2 linked regions of the Homo sapiens genome follow. The protein of the gene in region 1 binds, or shares a complex with, the protein of each later gene. Each region holds a gene or a part of one and is shown in the gene's direction. Other genes may lie near its edges. The genes, in order: SLC7A10 and SLC3A2.

Region 1 (8,601 bases):
GGTGAGTTTCAGAGTTGGCCACCACTTGGTGCCAAAGGCAGCTGATGCTGAATCTTGTAGTAACATCTTCCAAGAGGTTTTTATAAGGAATATGATTCATAAGGGTCCATCTGGGATGAGGTAGAGGGAAGAATTTATCCACTGACTCCCATCTGCCATTTATCCATCTGCCATTGTCCAAGTGAGATAGGAGAACAGGGAAAATGAGGCAGGAAAGTAGCAAAGGGAATTGAAAGTTGGATAAAGGGCAGAATAAGTAAAAGCAGAGAGCAGAAGAAGCAAGGTGAAGGGGCAGGTGAGCAAGAAGCCAGACAAAAAGCAGAGGTTCAGCAGCCAAAACAAAAGTAAGATAAAAAAGTGAGCAGGGCCGGGTGCCGTGGCTCATGCCTGTAATCCCAGCACTTTGGGAGGCTGAAGCGGGAGGATTACCTGAGGTCAGGGGTTCAAGACCAGCCTGGCCAACATGGTGAAACCCACTGTCTACTAAAAATACAAAAATTAGCCGGGCGTGGTGGTGGGCGCCTCTAATTACCAGCTACTCAGGAGGCTGAGGCAGGAAAATTGCTTGAACCGGGAGGCAGAGGTTGCAGTGAGCCACCGAGATTGCGCTACCGCACTCCAGCCTGGATGACAAGAGTGAGACTCCGTCTCAAAAAAAAAAAAAAAAGCGAGCAGTATCCCATGGCCGGCAGGATCCTGACCAAACCAGTAAGGGGCTGCGCTTCAGAGATGGGCATGTGCATTGGAGAGAAAAGGTATCCTTAACATAACCCCGTTATGATAATCAGCTACTTAAGGTTCATGCATATGAGCTGCATATCATGTATGTACTTAGGATTATGGGATGGAGGCAAGGTGCAAGCGCACGGGGGCCAAAGTAACTAAGCAACACACCTGTCAATCAAAAAGATAGACACTGGCTAGAGATTAGGCAGCCTTGGGAAGAGGGGGAAAAAAACAACATATAGAAAGACCCAAAGTACACCAAACTAATGCCGATCTCATCTCACAAAGATCAGTCCACTCTTCCTCTCCAAGAGTGGAATACTGCACTTAATACACTTTTTGCTATCTGTATATGTCTCTTCCAATTCTTTGTTCAAGTCGCCCAGATCCTGGAACTGTGTGGCACCATTCAGTAACACAAGGATAGGCCCGAGTGTGCTAACTCTCCTGCATTTCTGATTGCAAGTTTGTGGGTGCCAGATTGGTCCCTTATTATCTCATTCCTCAGGGGCATCAGAGAATCCCTGAGGGTGATGGGGGGTGCTGGCAGGTTGTACCTGCACCTGAAGTGGGAGGAAAGGTGGCAAAGCCTTGACACCAAGGTGAGGCTAGGGGCTGGGGAGGTGGCGTGATATCCAAGAGGCATCTAATACAGAGTGGAGATGCTGGATTTGGAGGTACTGCCAAATGGTTTTCCAAACTGGTGGTACCAACTCCACATCCTTGCCAACATTGGGTGTGTAATTTTCACCATTTTGGTGGCTACTCAGTGGTATCTTATTCTCGTTTTAATTTGCATTTCCCTGATGGCCCATGAGGTTTGAGTGCCTGTTCAGGAGTTTAACAGTCATTGGACATCCTCTTTTGGGAAGCACCTATTTAAAGTCCTTTGTTTTTTTTTTTTTTTTTTTTTTTTTTGAGATGGAGTCTCGCTCTGTTGCCCAGGCTAGAGTGCAGTGGCATGATCTCAGCTCACTTCAACCTCCGCCTCGCAGGTTCAAGCGATTCTCCTGCCTCGGCCTCCTGACTAGCTGGGACCACAGGCACTCACCACCACCCCCGGCCAATCTCTGCATTTTTAGTAGAGACAGGGTTTCACCATGTTGGCCAGGCTGGTCTCGAACTCCTGACCTCAAGTGATTCACCTGCCTTGCCCTTCCCAAGTGCTGGGGTTACAGGCATGAACCACCATGCCCGGCCTATTTTAAAACTTTTTCCTATTGATTTGATACATATTTTTCAATACAACTCATATGCTTATATTTTTAGATAGAAGTCCTTTATCGGCCATATGTATGGAAATAACTTCTCTCATATGTGGCTTACTCTTTCCTCTTTAATCATGTCTTTTGACTGACAGAAGTTTCTAATCTTAATGTAGTCCAATCTGTCACTTTCTTACTGTGTTTCTTATGTCTGTTTAAGAAAATGTATCTATTCTCTCCCCTGAGTTTTCTTCTAGCAGCTTTGATGTTTCACCTTTCACACGTACATTTCACATGTACATCACCTGGGACTGGTTTTAGGGTATAATGGAAGGGTGACATTAAAAGGGTTTTGGTTTTTTTCTTCAATATATAGATCCACCACCACTTATTGAAAAGCCCGTCCTTTCTCCACTGTTCTGCAATATCAACTTTGTCATAATAAACCAGGATGGGTCTGTTTCTGGATTTCTGTTTTCTTCCACCAGTAGATTTGTTTATCTTTGCATCAATGCCACACTGTCTTCCTTACTGTAGTATAAGTCCTCCAGATTTGTTCTTCTTCACATACTCTTTAGAATCAGCTTGTTGAGTTTCATCCCTCCAAAAAAGCCTTGTAATCAACAACAAAGTTGTCTGGTGCTTTGATCAAAATTACATTGGATGTATTTATCAATTCTATAAATCAATGTGGAGACCAACATTTTAAATTCCAATCCATGAACATGGTATATCCCTCCATTAGCTTATGTCTTTAACAATTTCTCTCAGAAATGTTTTGTAGTTTCTTGCATAAAAATTGTACACATCATTCACTAGAATTATTTTTAGGTATTTGATTTTATGCTATTATTAATTTCATTTTCTAATTATTTCTAGTATATAGAATACAATTAGTTTCTGTATATTAAACTTCTGTCTAGCGACTTTGCTAAATGAACTTATCTTCCTTAAATTAACCTGTAATTTTTTTTCTACATACTGAATCACATCATATGTGAATGGCAGCTTTATCTTTCCCTTTACTATCTTCATACCTTTTTACTTATTTTTCTTGTCTTATTGCTCTGGCTAGGACCTCCAGTACACTATTGTATAGAATATTGACAAGTGCCAACATCCCTTCTCATTTTCAATCTCAGTAGAAAAGCATTCACACTTTCACCACTAAACATGATGTCAGCTGTAGGGTTTTTGTTTGTTTCTTGGTTTCTTGGAGATTTGTTTTTAGGTAGATACTTTTATCAGATTAAGGAGGTTCTCTTCTGTTTCTATTTGCTAAGAGTTGTTTGTTTACATCACGGATGACTGTTTTTTGCATCTGTTGAGGTTTTCCTTTTTTCTCTCTATTAATGTGGAGAATCATGCTGATTGGTTTTTGGATGGTAAACCAATCCTACTAACCTTTTGTTCCCATTGAAATTTGCAGGTTCTAGTTCAATTCCACGAAAAGGACCTCCTGAGCTATGGGGCCTGGCTGACAACATACAAACTCCATCCTGTGCAAAGCCCTAGGCCGACCTTTCCCCCACAAACGCATACTCCACATTCCAGGTCCCAGAGAGACACCCTCGAAAACCACAGGCTTCAGAGCTGCGAGGCTTGCGCCAGCCCCTGCCCCTTGGCAAGCTGCCCCTGATTGCACCAGCCCTGGCTAGACCCTCTCCCAGCAGACCCTAGAATTGCGAGGGCAACTGGGGGGCTGGGGAGAGTCAAACCAGAAGGTCGAGGCCTCTGGCCCCTAACACCCGCGACAATCAGGGGTCTCCGGAGCCAGGGCTGCCCCTACCCTGCGCGAGGCTCCTTTAAGAGAGTCGGCCTCTGAATGGTCTCTGGGGCTGGAGGTGGAGGGCGCCAAGAATGCCGGTCTCCGACGACAGAAGCGAGAGGGATGCAGCTTCGCCGGGTGGCCTCCCCCTCGGCGTCCCACCAGCACGTCCACCCTGGATCCTCCCGCTCCTACTCCTACCCCAAGTCCCCGCCCCCAACTTCGAAGCTCCTGTGTGCCTGCAAACGCCGGCCCCGCCCCGCTCCCACCTCCAGGCCCTGCCGCTGCCAGGGACCCGCCCCTGCCAGGGACCCGCCCCCGCCCCGTCCCACCCCGGTCCACCCTGCAGCCGTCGGACCCCTGGCAGGGCCCCAGCAAACCCGGAGGCCGCCACTGGGGGGAAGGACGGGGCGCCCGGCGAGGCCTCATCCACATGCAGGGGACGGCGCGTCGCGGCGGCCGCCAGGAAGAAACAAAGGCTGTTCCGCCGCCGGCCGCACAGTGCCAGGCTCGCCCCGCCCGCCGCCCCGGTGGCCCCGACGCGGCCCCCCTGGATCTTTTCCGCCGGCCTCGGCTGCACAGTCCGGACGGCTTCCGGGAGGAGGCAGCCTCCCTCGGATCCCCGCACTCCCGACCCTCTCCCGCGACCACAGCCTCCTTCTCCGTGTCTCCCGGGCATTCCAGGTCGCCTGGCCTTCTTGAGCCGGGCTGGATCGCGCGGGACCTGCACCAGAGACCCGAGTTCTAGTCCGCTGAGCCCTCACTCTGACCTGGGACGAGGAGCCTGTAGTGAAGATCTCAGGCCAGAGGTGGCCCAGAGCCTGGTAGGGTGGGCGAGCCGTGTCCAGGACTCGTCACAGGTCTTGGGTCCCCGTGATGAGGATGAGAGCCCCCGGGATCTTCACCTCGACCCTCAGGCCTTTGATCCAGGGTGCATAGGACACCCAGACCCCTCAGAGGAGTTCCAGACCTCAACCCCCACCCCTCCTGAGGTTGTCCGCCTGGGAGCCTCAGGAGGCACGAGAAAGGGTTTGGTCTCAGCCCTGCACTTGCTCGGCGATCGCTACTGATCTCTGGGCTTCAACTTCCACCTGTAGAATGGACTCACCCTGGGAGCTGTCTCCTACACACACACACACACACACACACACACACACACACACACACACATCGTGCAGGCATAGAGTACTAAAGGGAGCACACACTGCATCCCCACACGCGGCCAGCTGTTATTCTTGCCGTCCCCCTCGGCCTCCCTGAGAGCAGGGATTGTCTTGTCTCGGAGCTCTGCTCCCCAACCCGGCCCCAAGAATGGATGTAACTCAGGCAACTGGAGGGTCCCTTCCTTCGCCCAACTGGGAAGTCCTTCCTAGATCTGCCCCAAGTCCTCTCCTTCCTTCCCAGGCCGGGACTGGGGGAGGGGGCGTTCCCTTTAAGGGAGGTGGGGGAGGGGGCTGTGGGCCGGCCCTCCTTCCGCCCCTCCCGGGCCCCCGCCGCCCGGGGCCCCCAGTCCCGGGCCCGGAGCCAGCGCATGCGCCCGCCTGTGGGCGCTGTCCCGGCTGCGAGGGCCGTGAGCTCACGGACCGACGGACCGACGGGCGGCCGGCCGGACAGACGGGGCAGCGCAGGGAGCGGGGACGCGGCGGGACAGCGACATGGCCGGCCACACGCAGCAGCCGAGCGGGCGCGGGAACCCCAGGCCTGCGCCCTCGCCCTCCCCAGTCCCAGGGACCGTCCCCGGCGCCTCGGAGCGGGTGGCGCTCAAGAAGGAGATCGGGCTGCTGAGCGCCTGCACCATCATCATCGGTGAGCGGGACCCAGGCGGGCGGGCGCCGGGCGGAGGCCGAATGAGGGGCGCAGCCGCTCCGAACGAGGGGCGTCCCCTCTCCGGGCGCTCGGACGGGTCTGCCTGGGGAACCTGCAGTCTGGCCTCAGAGAGCGCTATGACCGCGGGGAGGTCAGGGGCTGCTGGCCCAGGGTGCCAAAGCTCCGTGTTCCCACCTCCCGGCCGCCTGCACCTGGGGGAGTTTTGGGTCCCCTCCACCGCTGGACTCTTCCTCCTGACTCGATTTTGCTGCGGGGCTTTTGCAAGGCAGTTACCCTCAGTTTCCTCATCTGTGAAATGGCCATGACTGCAGTCCTGCGATTAGCGCAGGAACTTGACCAGTGTAGGGGCTGGTCAGGCTGCGGCAGGCTGAGCTCCCCAAGTTCTGTACTGTGGGTCAGTCTGAGTACCTACTGTGTGCAGGGTCCAGGTGCCACGCAGTGCAGTGACTTTATTCTTGGAAAGCAGGAGGGCCTATGAGCAGAGTGAGCAAGCGCAGCCTGCGCAGAAGGGACGGAGGTTCAGAGCAGGCAATGACTGCAGGGTTTGGCAGCAGGACCCAGGAGAGGGGGCGGGTTAGCCAGCAATTGGGGGCAGCAGTGGGCAGACCCAGCCTGCAGAAGGCCAGCTGCTCCCTGAGCTGGGATCCTGGTGGGCACTGGACACTCGCCTGGTCTGGAGGCCCTGGACTCCAAAGTCCCCACCTGAGAATGGGTCCATGTCCTGCCCCCACATAGGGGTTTCTGGGCAGGCAGAGAGCTCAGAGGTCATGGGAATGGCAGTGGTATTTTTCCACTCTCTGTCCCAAGTCATGGATACTGACTTGTTTCTTTGTCTACACAGAGTGCCTCTGAGCCCCTCCAGGGAGGGACAGGAGAAGTGGTTTGGGGGGTGAGTGACTGGGGCCTCGACTGTTCTCACCTTACCGCCAGCCAGTCTTCCCGGTCCCCTGCCAGTGAGAGCCACTTGTGTCTTCACTGCCTTCCCACCCTCAGACCCCTGGAGATGGAGAAAGTTTGGGGGCTCAGTAGGGCAGACCCAGGGTCTTCACCTCGTCCTCTCCCACCCCCACATTAGCAGCTCTTCACATCCAGAGTTGCCCCTGAACACAGCCCCTGGCCAGGTCACTCCGCCATCTCACCCCCTCCCCTTAGAATGCTGTCTCCCAGAGCCTGGTCCTGACCTGGCCCTGGGAGCTTCTTGGCCTAGGATGCCCCTGCCTGATGGACGGTCTGCTGGAAGGAAGGGCTGGTTCCAGGGATTTGGCCAGGGTGCTGGTTAGAGCTTTTTCTTGGCCCACACCCTCTCCAGGAACTGTCCTCCAGGGAAGGGGAAGCTCACACCATGAGTGGGTCATAGGATTGAGACCATGCCTAGAACCAGCTACAGTGCCAGGCAGGTGCAGAAAGACACAGCTCTGCCTGGGCTCCTCAGCTAAGCCCAGCATCCTTGACCTGTCTTCCTACTCTATCCCCTCCCCACATCCCATCCTCCCCAGGCCACAGGGAGGCTGCCTGGCTCCTTTCTCCCCAGAAAGGGGCCCTGGTGGTGGTGGTGGTGGTGGTGGTGGTGGTGGTGGTGGTGGTGGTGATGGTAGAGGTGGTGGTGGTGGGAGTGGAGAAGGCCAACTCCACTATCACCCTCCTTTTCCAGGACAGACTCTGTAAGTTTCCCATGCAGCCCAGGTCTGCCCTGACAGCTCCCCTACCCTTCAGTTCCTTCCTGCTGTGCCAGGTCCACTACCTTGGCCTCCAAACCTTGAACACTGAGCCAGGGTGAAGGGCCACTTAGCTAACCAAGGATGCTGGATTCAGCTACAGAACCCAAGCCCGGGGCACTCAGTGGTGGTCTTGGGGAGCCTTGATCTTGGCCTGGCCCGGGGAGCCTTTGAGGATTACAGCAGGCAGGAGGCTGGACGAGGCAGGAAAAAACAAGGAGATCAACCTCAACCAGAAGGTGATAGGAGGTGGGGACTGGGCAGGTGAGGACTGAGCTGGGGTCTGCACTGCCTTCCCCACCTGATGTACTAAGGGTCTCCCCTCCCCAGCCCACCCCACCTTTCTGCCCCAGGTGGGCTCACTCTCTCTCCACCAATACCCTGGGGAGCCTGGTCAGAATCAAAAATGTCTGCAAAGTGTCATATTTTAGCTCTAAAAGTCAAGAACTTGACGTCCTGCTTCCTTTCCTTTCCTTTCTTTTTCTTTCTTTTTTTTTTTTTTTTTTTCTGAGACAGAGTCTGGCTGTGTCCCCTAGGCTGGAGTGCAGTGGCACAATCTCAGCTCATTGCAACCTCCACCTCCGGGGTTCAAGTAATTCTCCTGCGTCAGCCTCCCAAGTAGCTAGGATTACAGGCACACACCACCATGTCCAGCTAATTTTTGTATTTTCAGTAGAGACAGAGTTTCACCATGTTGGCCAGGCTGGTCTCGAACTCCTAACCTCAAGTGATCTGCCTGCCTTGGCCTCCCAAAGTGCTGGGATTACAGGTGTGAGCCACCCTGCCCAGCCAACGTCCTGCTTCATAATCTACCTTGGTTTGTTATTGTTATTGAACATGTTATTTCCAAAACTTCCACAGCGACCCTCCTAGGAGATCCTGTCACTCTCTCCCTCGTGTATACCCTCTGCTCCAGCTCAGACTGGGAATTGAGGCTTTTGAGAATGGGAAGACCTGGAAGGGTGGGCTATGGGCTGGCGTGAGACTCATGTATAGTGTGTTTAGGGCAGTGCCCGCCGGCCACTGCAAGCACAGATGGAAGGGAATCGGCCAGGCTGGAGGAAATAGAACTGGCTGGGGCAGGGGCTCTGCAGGACATCATCACATCCAATATCTGTTCAGAAAAACACCTCTTACTGCCTTATGAAAACATGTTCTTCCTTTATCTCATTTGAATCTCATGCCCACCTTGCAAGGTAGGAATTTTTATACCCATTTTACAGAGTGGAAACTAAGGTTGGAAGTGAAATGATACTGCTCCAAGGGGTAGGCTCAGGATTTGGAACCAGATTTGGGCTCTGTTCCCAGTCCAGTGCCTATTTTATTTTATTTTATTTTATTTTATTTTATTTATTTTATT
Region 2 (9,491 bases), on another chromosome or scaffold:
AATCCCAGCACTTTGGGAGGCCGAGGCGAGTGGATCACGAGATCAGGAGATCAAGACCATCCTGGCTAACATGGTGAAACCCCGTCTCTACTAAAAATACACAAAAAAATCAAAATTAGCTGGGCGTGGTGGTGGGCACCTGGAGTCCGCAGGAGAATAGTGTGAACCTTGGAAGGCAGAGCTTGTAGTGAGCTGAGATCGCACCACTGTACTCCAGCCTGGGCGACAGAGCGAGACTTCATCTCAAAAAAAAAAGTCCTTCTTAGATGTTTTTAGTTGTTTGTTTATTTTTCGAGATGGAGTTTTGCTCTTGTTGCCCAGGCTGAAGTGCAATGGCACGATCTGGGCCCATTGCAACCTCTGCCTCCCAGGTTCAAGCGATTCTCCTGCCTCAGCCTCCTGAGTAGCTGGGATTACAGGCAGCCACCACCATGCCCAGCTCATTTTTGTATTTTTAGTAGAGATGGGGTTTCACCACGTTGGCCAGGCTGGTCTCAAACTCCTGACCTCAGGTGATCCGCCCGCCTCAGCCTCTCAAAGTGCTGGGATTGCAGGCATGAGCCACTGCGCCCAGCCTGTTTGTTTGTTTTCAGATAGGGTCACCCTGTCAGCCAGGCTGGAATGCAATGGTGTGATTGTGATCACAGCTCACTGCTGCCTCAACCTGAGGGCTCAAGTGATCCTCCCACTTCAGCCTCCTTAGTAACTGGGACCACAGGGGTGAGCCACCATGCCTGGCTAATTTGTTAATTTTTGTAGAGATGGGGTCTCCCTATGTTGCCGAGGCTGGTCTCAAACTACTGGGCTTAAGTGATCCTCCTGCCTTAGCTTCCCAGAGCGCTGGGATTAAAGGCATGAGCTGCTGTGCCTGGTCAATCCTTTTTACATGTTTGAGGAAAAATAAATGTCCTGTTTTCAGGCTAAGATCAAGTAATAATCCTCATGTGTTAGGAAGCATGTGACATGGATTTTTGCAGCAGAGGGTTAGAAAGGAACTTTCTTTATATACTTGGCCCCCTGCATTTCAGGGCTCCACCGCCATCTGTCTGTCTGAGTGTAAAGTGGACCTTATTGGCATCTGGGCTGCCAAACTGCTTTTTTTCCTTTGCTTTGCCCAGCCTTCTCTTGAAGGCTAAATTCTTGAAAAATTATATTCTTTGTGTTCCTATAGTAAATATTAAGCTTTATATCAACACATATGGCAGGATCTGAGGCTCTTTACTCACCTCTGGTCCATTTCTCTAGTCTTTTCTCTGTAGTCTTTTTGTTTTCCTGTCCTCCATCTCCTAATTTATTAGTTTTATTATTATATTTTATATTATTTTTTTGAGACAGAGTTTTGCTCTTGTTGCCCAGGCTGGAGTGCAATGGCGCGATCTTGGCTCACTGCAATCCCTGCCTCATGGGTTCAAGTGATTTGTCTGCCACAGCCTCCTGAGTAGCTGAAATTACAGGCACGCACCACCATACCTGGCTAATTTTTGTATTTTTAGTAGAAACGGGGTTTCACCATGTTAGCCAGGCTGATATTGAATTCCTGACCTCAATTGATCCGACTGCCTCGGCCTCCGGAAGTGCTGGGATTACAGGTGAGCCACAGTGCCTGGCAGTTTGTTTTATTTTGGTTGAACAGTTACAAGTCTTGGTTTGTTTTCCTGCAGCAACAGGTTTATCTTGATATGATACAGCGTTATTTAAATTCCTTTTCATTTTCCTGCCTTTGTCTTCACATGCTAGTTTTTTTCAGTTGTTTCTTTTTTCTTCTTCCTTTTCTTTTTTTTTTTTTTTGAGAGATAGTCTTGCTGTGTTGTCCAGGTTGCAGTACAGTGGTGCGATCTGGGCTCACTGCAACCTCTGCCTCCTGGGTTCAAGTGATTCTCTCACCTCAGCCTCCGGAGTAGCTGGGATTACAGGTGCCCACCACCACGCCTGGCTAATTTTTGTATTTTTAGTAGAGACAGCGTTTCACCATGTTGGCCAGGCTGGTCTTGAACTCCTGACCTCAATTGATCTGCCTGCCTTGGTCTCCCAAAGTGCTGATTACAGGTGTGATCCACCGTGCCTAGCCTGTTTAGTTGTTTCTAAGAAGGGAGATATTGGTTTTGATTGACATAGTTCATCCACTTATTTACCAAACACTTGCGAAGTGCCTACTATATGCTGCCTCCGAATAGGCAGGTTCGTCCACAATAGCACAAGGCTCCTGCCACTTGTCTTCAAGGACAAAGAGACATCCAGACAAACAAATGTAATAAACAAATGGGACATGATTGTAGCAGAGGCAGATGCATGGTGGAGGGAAAGTAATTTTGTCTGGGGAGTTGAGAAAAGCTGTCACTTGAGCTAGATCTTGAATGAATAGGAACTCATGAGGTTGAGTGGACAAACAGGAAGGGCCAACAGCAGAGGTATGGCATGTACAAGATGCAGAGCTCTGCCTGAAAAAGCCTGGTGTGTTGTGAGTCTGGCAGGTGTTTGAAGGCTGATGTGGCTGGAGGCTAGTGCCTGTGAAGCAGGTGGTGGCTGATAAGATTGGAGAGGCAAGCTGTTATCCTCTTTATGCATGCAGAAGGAATTGACTTCAGGCTGGGCACAGTGGCTCATGCCTGTAATCCCAGCACTTTGGGAGGCTGAGGCGGGCAGATCACCTGAAGTTAGGAGTTCAAGACCAGCCTGGCCAACATGGTGAAACCCTGTCTCTCCTAAAAATACAAAATTAGCCGGGTGTGGCGGTGCACGCCTCCTATAATCTCAACTACTGGGGAGGCTCAGGAAGAAGAATCGCTTGAACCTGAGAGGCACAGGTTGCAGTGAGCTGAGATCGCGCCACTGCACTCCATGCTGGGTGACAGTGTGAGACCCTGTCTCAAAAAAAAAAAAACAAAAAACAAAAGGAATTGACTTCAGCCATTTGGAGCCATGAGGATCTGTGAGTGAGATACTGTGTCATGTTGGACCATCTCAAAGACAGCTTCTGACCCCACAGTTCTCAACCTTGTTCTTACTTATTTTTAGAGACAGGGTCTCGCTCTGTCTCCTAGGCTGGTATGCAGTGGTGCCACCATGGCTCACTGCAGCCTCACAAACTCCTGGACTCAAGTGATCCTCCTGCTTTTGCTTCCCTTGAGTGTTGGCATCTCATGGGACTCCAGGGGCACATCACCAATTACAGATGATAATTTTTTTTTTTTTTGAGACGGAGTCTTGCTCTGTATCCCAGGCTGGAGTGCAGTGGCGCGATTTTGGCTCACTGCAAGCTCCGCCTCCCAGGTTCACGTCATTCTCCTGCCTCAGCCTCCTAAGTAGCTGGGACTACAGGCACCCGCCACCACGCCTGGCTGATTTTTTTTTTTTTTTTTTGCATTTTTAGTAGAGACGGGGTTTCACTGTGTTAGCCAGGATGGTCTCGGTCTCCTGACCTCTTGATCCACCTGCCTCGGCCTCCCAAAGTGCTGGTATTACAGGTGTGAGACACCACGCCTGGCCTTTTTTTTTCTTTTTTGAGACAGAGTCTCACTCTGTCACCCAGGCTGGAGTGCAGCCGCGCAATCTTGGCTCACTGCAACCTCTGCCTCTCGGGTTCAAGCGATTCTCATGCCTCACCCCTCCAAGTCTGGGACTACAGGCGTGTGCTACTATGTCCAGTTAATTTTTGTATTTTTAGTAGAGATGGGGTTTCACCATGTTGGCCAGGCTGGTCACGAACTCCTGACCTCAAGTTATCCGCCACCCTCAGCCTCCCAAAGTGCTGGGATTACAGGTGTCAGCCACCACACCTGGCCTGTTAGTTTTTTTGAGGCAGAGTCTTGCTCTATCACCCAGACTGGAGTGCAGTGGCCCATTCTTGGCTCACTGCAACCTCTACCTCCTGGGTTCAAGCGATTCTCATGCCACAGCATGAGAAGTGGGATTACAGGGATTAGTAGGTGGGATTACAGGTGTGAGCCACCACACCCAGCCAGGCCCAGATAATTTTAAAATTTATTTTTTTATTTATTTAGAAATGGAGTCTCACTATGTTGCCCCGTCTGGTCTTAAACTCCTGGCCTCAAGGAATCCTCCCTCCTTGGCCTCCTAAAGGGCTAGGTGACAGGCATGAGTCACACTGCGCCCAGCCTTGAGCTTTTGTGCTCGAGATATAGTCCATTCAGAACCTCTGGTTGGCACTTCTTATCTGGCACATGCAGGGCACCTTGGATCTCTTATTATCTTTGAGCACTGGTCTGAACCCACTTGCTTGCCTTCTCCCAGGGGCTGCCCCGTGCACCCCTTGTTCCTAGGGTGGGGATGGGGTTGGATGCCTGGGGTTGCAGAGGGGACTAGCAGAGGGTGACCCTTTTCTCTATGCTATTACTTCAGATCTTGGCTTTTGCTTTCTTCCAAATACACAGCAATCTTGGCTTCCAGCCTAGGTGGGAAAGGGAGAAAGAACCGATTTCCTCCAGCTCCTCTCTGAAAGTAGCCCAACTGGCACTGTTTAGGAACAAGGAGTTCCTGAGAGTGTTGGCACCCCACGGTGTTGATGTCCGGTAGTTCCCTGCTGTGAACCCTGTCTCTGCCCCACTTCAATCCAAGGACCCTGTGGAGGGAATTCTAGGCTTCTTCAAAGCCTCTGCAGTACCAGCTGCCTCCAAGGCCTAACATAGTGAAGTGATAGGGAGACAGGACCTTGGGGGAGTTTGGGGATAACTGTGGGAGTTCCTGCAAGGTGGGTAAGAGTCTGGCCATGGCATCTTCTGGTCTATTCCACAAAAAAGGTGGATGCCTCTGAGACCTAGCTCTGTTATGTTCATTACAGCCCTATCAGTCTCTTCTGGATGTCTGATTCCTAGCTGCCAAACATCCAGGTGCTAGCAGCTGGGGGTGGGGTAGGATAAGAAGGGGGGTGTCTACCTCAACCTTCCTGCCCAAACCATTCATTTTAAAGTACTGTGAAGAAGGCTGGATTAGTGTTAAATTCAATAAAGTTAACAAAGCAAAGTATTGTAGTGAGTACACAATAAATAGTTGCTGCATGAGGAATTTCTTGAAATGAATTCAAGATGAGTCTTGAAAAACGAGTGGGAGTAAGCCGTGCACGGAAGCAGAGGTCTAGCAGAGGTCTAGCGCCAAGTCCCAGAGGCCTGAGAGGGCAAGCCTTGGTGGGGGAAAAGGCAGAAGTTGTGACTGGCTGCCTCTGAGAGTGCAAGTAGCCATGCAAAGTTGGGAAAACCAGACGGCGGCCGGAGCCGTGAACCAGGGGCAAATGGAGGATGGTGTTGGGGTAGTCACTAGCCTGCCGGAATGGAAGAAGAGGGGCGTTTGGGGGCGGTAAGGCCTAAAGGACACTGGAGGGGCCTCGGGATTTGGGGCAGGATCACAGGCCTAGTCCACTTAAAGGTGGCTCCGTGCCAGGCCTTCCCAGAATCAGGTTGAAAAGAACTTTAGGGTTAGACAGGTTGGAGATGAGAAATTGGACCATGCAGGAAGTACTGTCGGAGGCGTGTTCCTGACTTTACTACCCTGAGCCGCCCACGGCTGGGGCAGTCCCCGAGGTTCCACCTTAAGGGGCGGGCCGGGGCGGGGCTCCGCTGCCCCTTCCCAGAGGCCGCGCCTGCTGCTGAGCAGATGCAGTAGCCGAAACTGCGCGGAGGCACAGAGGCCGGGGAGAGCGTTCTGGGTCCGAGGGTCCAGGTAGGGGTTGAGCCACCATCTGACCGCAAGCTGCGTCGTGTCGCCGGTTCTGCAGGCACCATGAGCCAGGACACCGAGGTGGATATGAAGGAGGTGGAGCTGAATGAGTTAGAGCCCGAGAAGCAGCCGATGAACGCGGCGTCTGGGGCGGCCATGTCCCTGGCGGGAGCCGAGAAGAATGGTCTGGTGAAGATCAAGGTGGCGGAAGACGAGGCGGAGGCGGCAGCCGCGGCTAAGTTCACGGGCCTGTCCAAGGAGGAGCTGCTGAAGGTGGCAGGCAGCCCCGGCTGGGTACGCACCCGCTGGGCACTGCTGCTGCTCTTCTGGCTCGGCTGGCTCGGCATGCTTGCTGGTGCCGTGGTCATAATCGTGCGAGCGCCGCGTTGTCGCGAGCTACCGGCGCAGAAGTGGTGGCACACGGGCGCCCTCTACCGCATCGGCGACCTTCAGGCCTTCCAGGGCCACGGCGCGGGCAACCTGGCGGGTGAGTGCAGCGCGCCCCCGTCCCGGGTACCTCCGGTTGAATCTGGTGGCTTGCACCGACCCCCTCCCCTGTCCCCAGACGGATCTAGATGGTTCTTCCCTCCATCCCGTACCGACGACTGTTCCCCCTTCCCCCACCCCCTCCCCGGCACATTGTCCTTCCCTCCTTTCTTTGAAGAAAGCCGACCCGCCCCTCACTCCGTCACGAGGGTGGGTGACTCAGCGTCCTCCTTCCCCGCGGCGCCAGAAGCCAGTTGCAACCGGTTTCTGAAGTAATGTGCAGGACTCCTTACATCAGCTCCTCTGAGTCTCGTGATTCAGCCTTGCCTCCCTCTCTCCCCCTTTGCCCCCTCCCCGTCCCACCCTTAGGCGCTGGGAGAAGGGAGGGTGGGGAGGTCAGGGGCCTCTCAGAGGGGCCTCACTTGTTAACCCAGCCCCCATTTCAGGTCTGAAGGGGCGTCTCGATTACCTGAGCTCTCTGAAGGTGAAGGGCCTTGTGCTGGGTCCAATTCACAAGAACCAGAAGGATGATGTCGCTCAGACTGACTTGCTGCAGATCGACCCCAATTTTGGCTCCAAGGAAGATTTTGACAGTCTCTTGCAATCGGCTAAAAAAAAGAGTGGGTATCCTGGGGTTCCCAAGGAAACAGCTAGAAAGGACTTGGCCAGAGGAAAAGTAGGCTAGAACTTTTGTCTGGTTTCCTGCTAACTGGCTCTGAGTTTTCCTAGGGCAGGTAGAGGGGAGATTTGTTAGTCTTCAGCCTAAAATGGATTTGTCCAGTCGTCTGGGGGCTTTCTACTTGGCTGTGGAATCTTGAGCAGGTCATTTAACTTCTGGGCTTCAGTGCCCTTATTTGCAAAATATAGATATTTACTAAACCAGTGGTTTTAAACTTGTAAAACAGTAGGTTTTTTTGGGGGGGGGGAATCCCAAATATTGTTTTACGACTCGATATAGACACATGTTTAAAAAGGTTCACTTTGGGAGTGGGGAACACAGGGGCCACTTCTCTGCACTATAAACTTTCTGCCTTCCAATATCTTTTTTTTTTTTTGAGATGGAGTCTCACTCTTGTCACCCAGGCTGCAGTGCAGTGGAACGATCTCAGCTTACTGCAGCCTCCTCCCCCAGGGTTCAAGCGATTCTCGTGCCTCAGCCTCCTGAGTAGCTGGTACTACAGCCGTGTGCCACCACACCCAGATAATTTTTTTATTTTTAGTAGAGACAATTTTCAACATGTTGACCGGTCTGGTTTTGAACTCGCCTGGCCTGCCTTCCCATATCTTAAGGCCCTTCCTTGCTCACATCTGTTTCAATGGAATGAATTTTGCCCGGGTTCAAATTCAAGCTTTTGTACCAAGTAATACATAGGAAACACTCAGTGACTTGCATTTGTGATTTCCTTATTTTCCCTTAACTCATAGACTGTCTCATGATTGCGTCTTCCTCCGTTGTTTTAGGCATCCGTGTCATTCTGGACCTTACTCCCAACTACCGGGGTGAGAACTCGTGGTTCTCCACTCAGGTTGACACTGTGGCCACCAAGGTGAAGGTGAGTGTTGGAGCTGATGGCTGGTGGAAGTCAGATGCTGGGGCTGGGACAGTCCTTTCACAGCAAGCCCTGTAGACCCAGCCTGACTCCAGCTGAGGGTCCCTTTGCTCCTTAGGACCAAGGAGGAATGCCTCCTCCTATAGCCAAAGGATAGGCCAATAGCACACCTGTTTTTCTTGTTCCTTTTCTGACCTCTTATTTTTCTTATTTCCTTGACTCTGAGGATGAGACAGTGCCAGGAAGGGACCTTCTCAGAAGTCAGTCTGGAAGTTTGATTTTTCTTTCTTTTGGGAGAGGAAGCCCTTTCTCTGTGAGAATCCTGTCCTGACTGGTTTCCCAGTTCTTGTTTGATGTGTTTGGAATAGAGCCCAGTCTGAAATTATAAGCACTGGGGTACTCCTATGTGTCTGGGACTCTATGCCAAGTATTTTATAGATGTTTTCTAATTCTCTGTATAACCATACAAGGTATATAATTTGCCATAGGTTCAAATGTGTACCCAGCAGGCTAGGAGTAGGGCTTTGAATGTCACCTAGCTCCTGATGTCTGGGTCCTAGGACACTGACCTGTTCAGAATGGGTAGAACAAAAATGGAAGCAGATACTGACACTGCTGGTAGCTGTGATTCTAAGATAGAATTCTGGACTCCCAGCATTTGGGTAGGACCCCGGGATCATCCAGTTTAGGCCTTGCCAGTTACTAGGGGACCCTTTAAAAGTTGCTGATGAGGGAATGTTTTTGGATGGTTTGGCATGAGGGGCGGTACCCTCAGATGGAAATGGAGACCAGAGGAGAGAGTACATGGCCCAGAGAAAGGGAAGAAAAGGAGAATGGGGGTGAAGTTCCACAGTGTGTGCAGGACTGCCAGGATTCCATTCAGCAGCACTGGCCTCTTTTCAAATCTAAACTGCCCTGGGGCTATGCTTTGAATTTCAATCTTTCATCCTTGGCCTTGCTCTGAGCAGTTATTGTACTCACACCTTCCCCAGGCCTCAGGAAACTGGGAGAGGGGGGATCTTGACTGACATTTTAGATCCTGTCTGCTGCTCACTGATTATGACTGTGGACGCGTCTCCCTGCTTCTCTGGGTCTGTTTCTTCATCTCTAAAATAGGTATGCTAACATTCCAATGCTAAGTGTTAAACGAAGTTATGTTTATGGACATACCTTTTCTCTGGGGCCTTTTCTGTGGCTTTCAAAGTTGAAGCTGTGTGATTTGCCAGAGGCAAGAATGAGAAGTAAAATGCTGTAGCACTAAGAAAATGAGTGGAAGGGTAGAGCTGGAGGGGTCCAAAGGCTAAGCCTTTGTAGTGCAGGTGGGGAAGACCCAGGCAAGGCACAGGACTCTCCCCAGCTCCCGGGGAAGTGTGTGGTGGGTGAGGTTTAGTGTGGGCTGGAATTTTCTGAGCCTTTTCCTGAGAACTGATGTCTGTCCTTTATTCTTCTGCCCCCTATAGGATGCTCTGGAGTTTTGGCTGCAAGCTGGCGTGGATGGGTTCCAGGTTCGGGACATAGAGAATCTGAAGGTGAGTTCCCTTTCCACATTAGGGACAAAGCTTGGGCGAGAACAGAGGGACTCAGCTAGAGCCTCATAATATTCTCTGGTCCTTGATTCTGCTTTTTTCTTTCTAGGATGCATCCTCATTCTTGGCTGAGTGGCAAAATATCACCAAGGGCTTCAGTGAAGACAGGTGGGTGCAGGAGCCATTCTGCTGACTCAGCTCCAATGTGGGAACCCCTCAGTGGAGTGCTAGGCCTAAGAAGGGGGGATTCCTAGTCTAG

What was found.
Region 2: the proteins of SLC7A10 (region 1) and SLC3A2 are in contact, whole or in part, in a cryo-EM structure (PDB 8WNT), measured with the Homo sapiens proteins. Residues at the interface, in NP_062823.1 of Homo sapiens: Leu147, Val150, Phe151, Asn153, Cys154, Pro157, Ala160, Val163, Leu164, Met166, Ala167, Met170, Leu171, Trp174, Ser352, Val359, Glu481, Thr484, His485, Trp486, Gln488, Glu489, Leu490, Phe492, Val493, Val494, Tyr495, Gln497; in NP_002385.3 of Homo sapiens: Phe161, Thr162, Gly163, Leu164, Lys166, Leu169, Leu170, Val172, Ala173, Trp178, Arg182, Leu186, Phe189, Trp190, Trp193, Met196, Leu197, Ala200, Ile203, Ile204, Ala207, Pro208, Arg209, Cys210, Arg211, Glu212, Leu213, Arg534.

Annotation. Positions count from the first base shown.
Region 1 is NC_000019.10:33,222,457-33,231,057, reverse strand, and holds the start of SLC7A10 (asc-type amino acid transporter 1), read left to right. Parts: upstream 1-5,207; 5' UTR 5,208-5,230; coding exon of another isoform or gene 5,231-5,354; coding exon 5,355-5,505; intron 5,506-8,601. UniProt on the Homo sapiens protein: Associates with SLC3A2/4F2hc to form a functional heterodimeric complex that translocates small neutral L- and D-amino acids across the plasma membrane. Preferentially mediates exchange transport, but can also operate via facilitated diffusion.
Region 2 is NC_000011.10:62,875,291-62,884,781, forward strand, and holds the start of SLC3A2 (amino acid transporter heavy chain SLC3A2), read left to right. Parts: upstream 1-5,605; 5' UTR 5,606-5,728; coding exon of another isoform or gene 5,729-5,733; coding exon 5,734-6,157; intron 6,158-6,408; exon of another isoform or gene 6,409-6,602; coding exon 6,603-6,776; intron 6,777-7,617; coding exon 7,618-7,709; intron 7,710-8,698; exon of another isoform or gene 8,699-8,822; intron 8,823-9,166; coding exon 9,167-9,235; intron 9,236-9,341; coding exon 9,342-9,400; intron 9,401-9,491. UniProt on the Homo sapiens protein: Acts as a chaperone that facilitates biogenesis and trafficking of functional transporters heterodimers to the plasma membrane.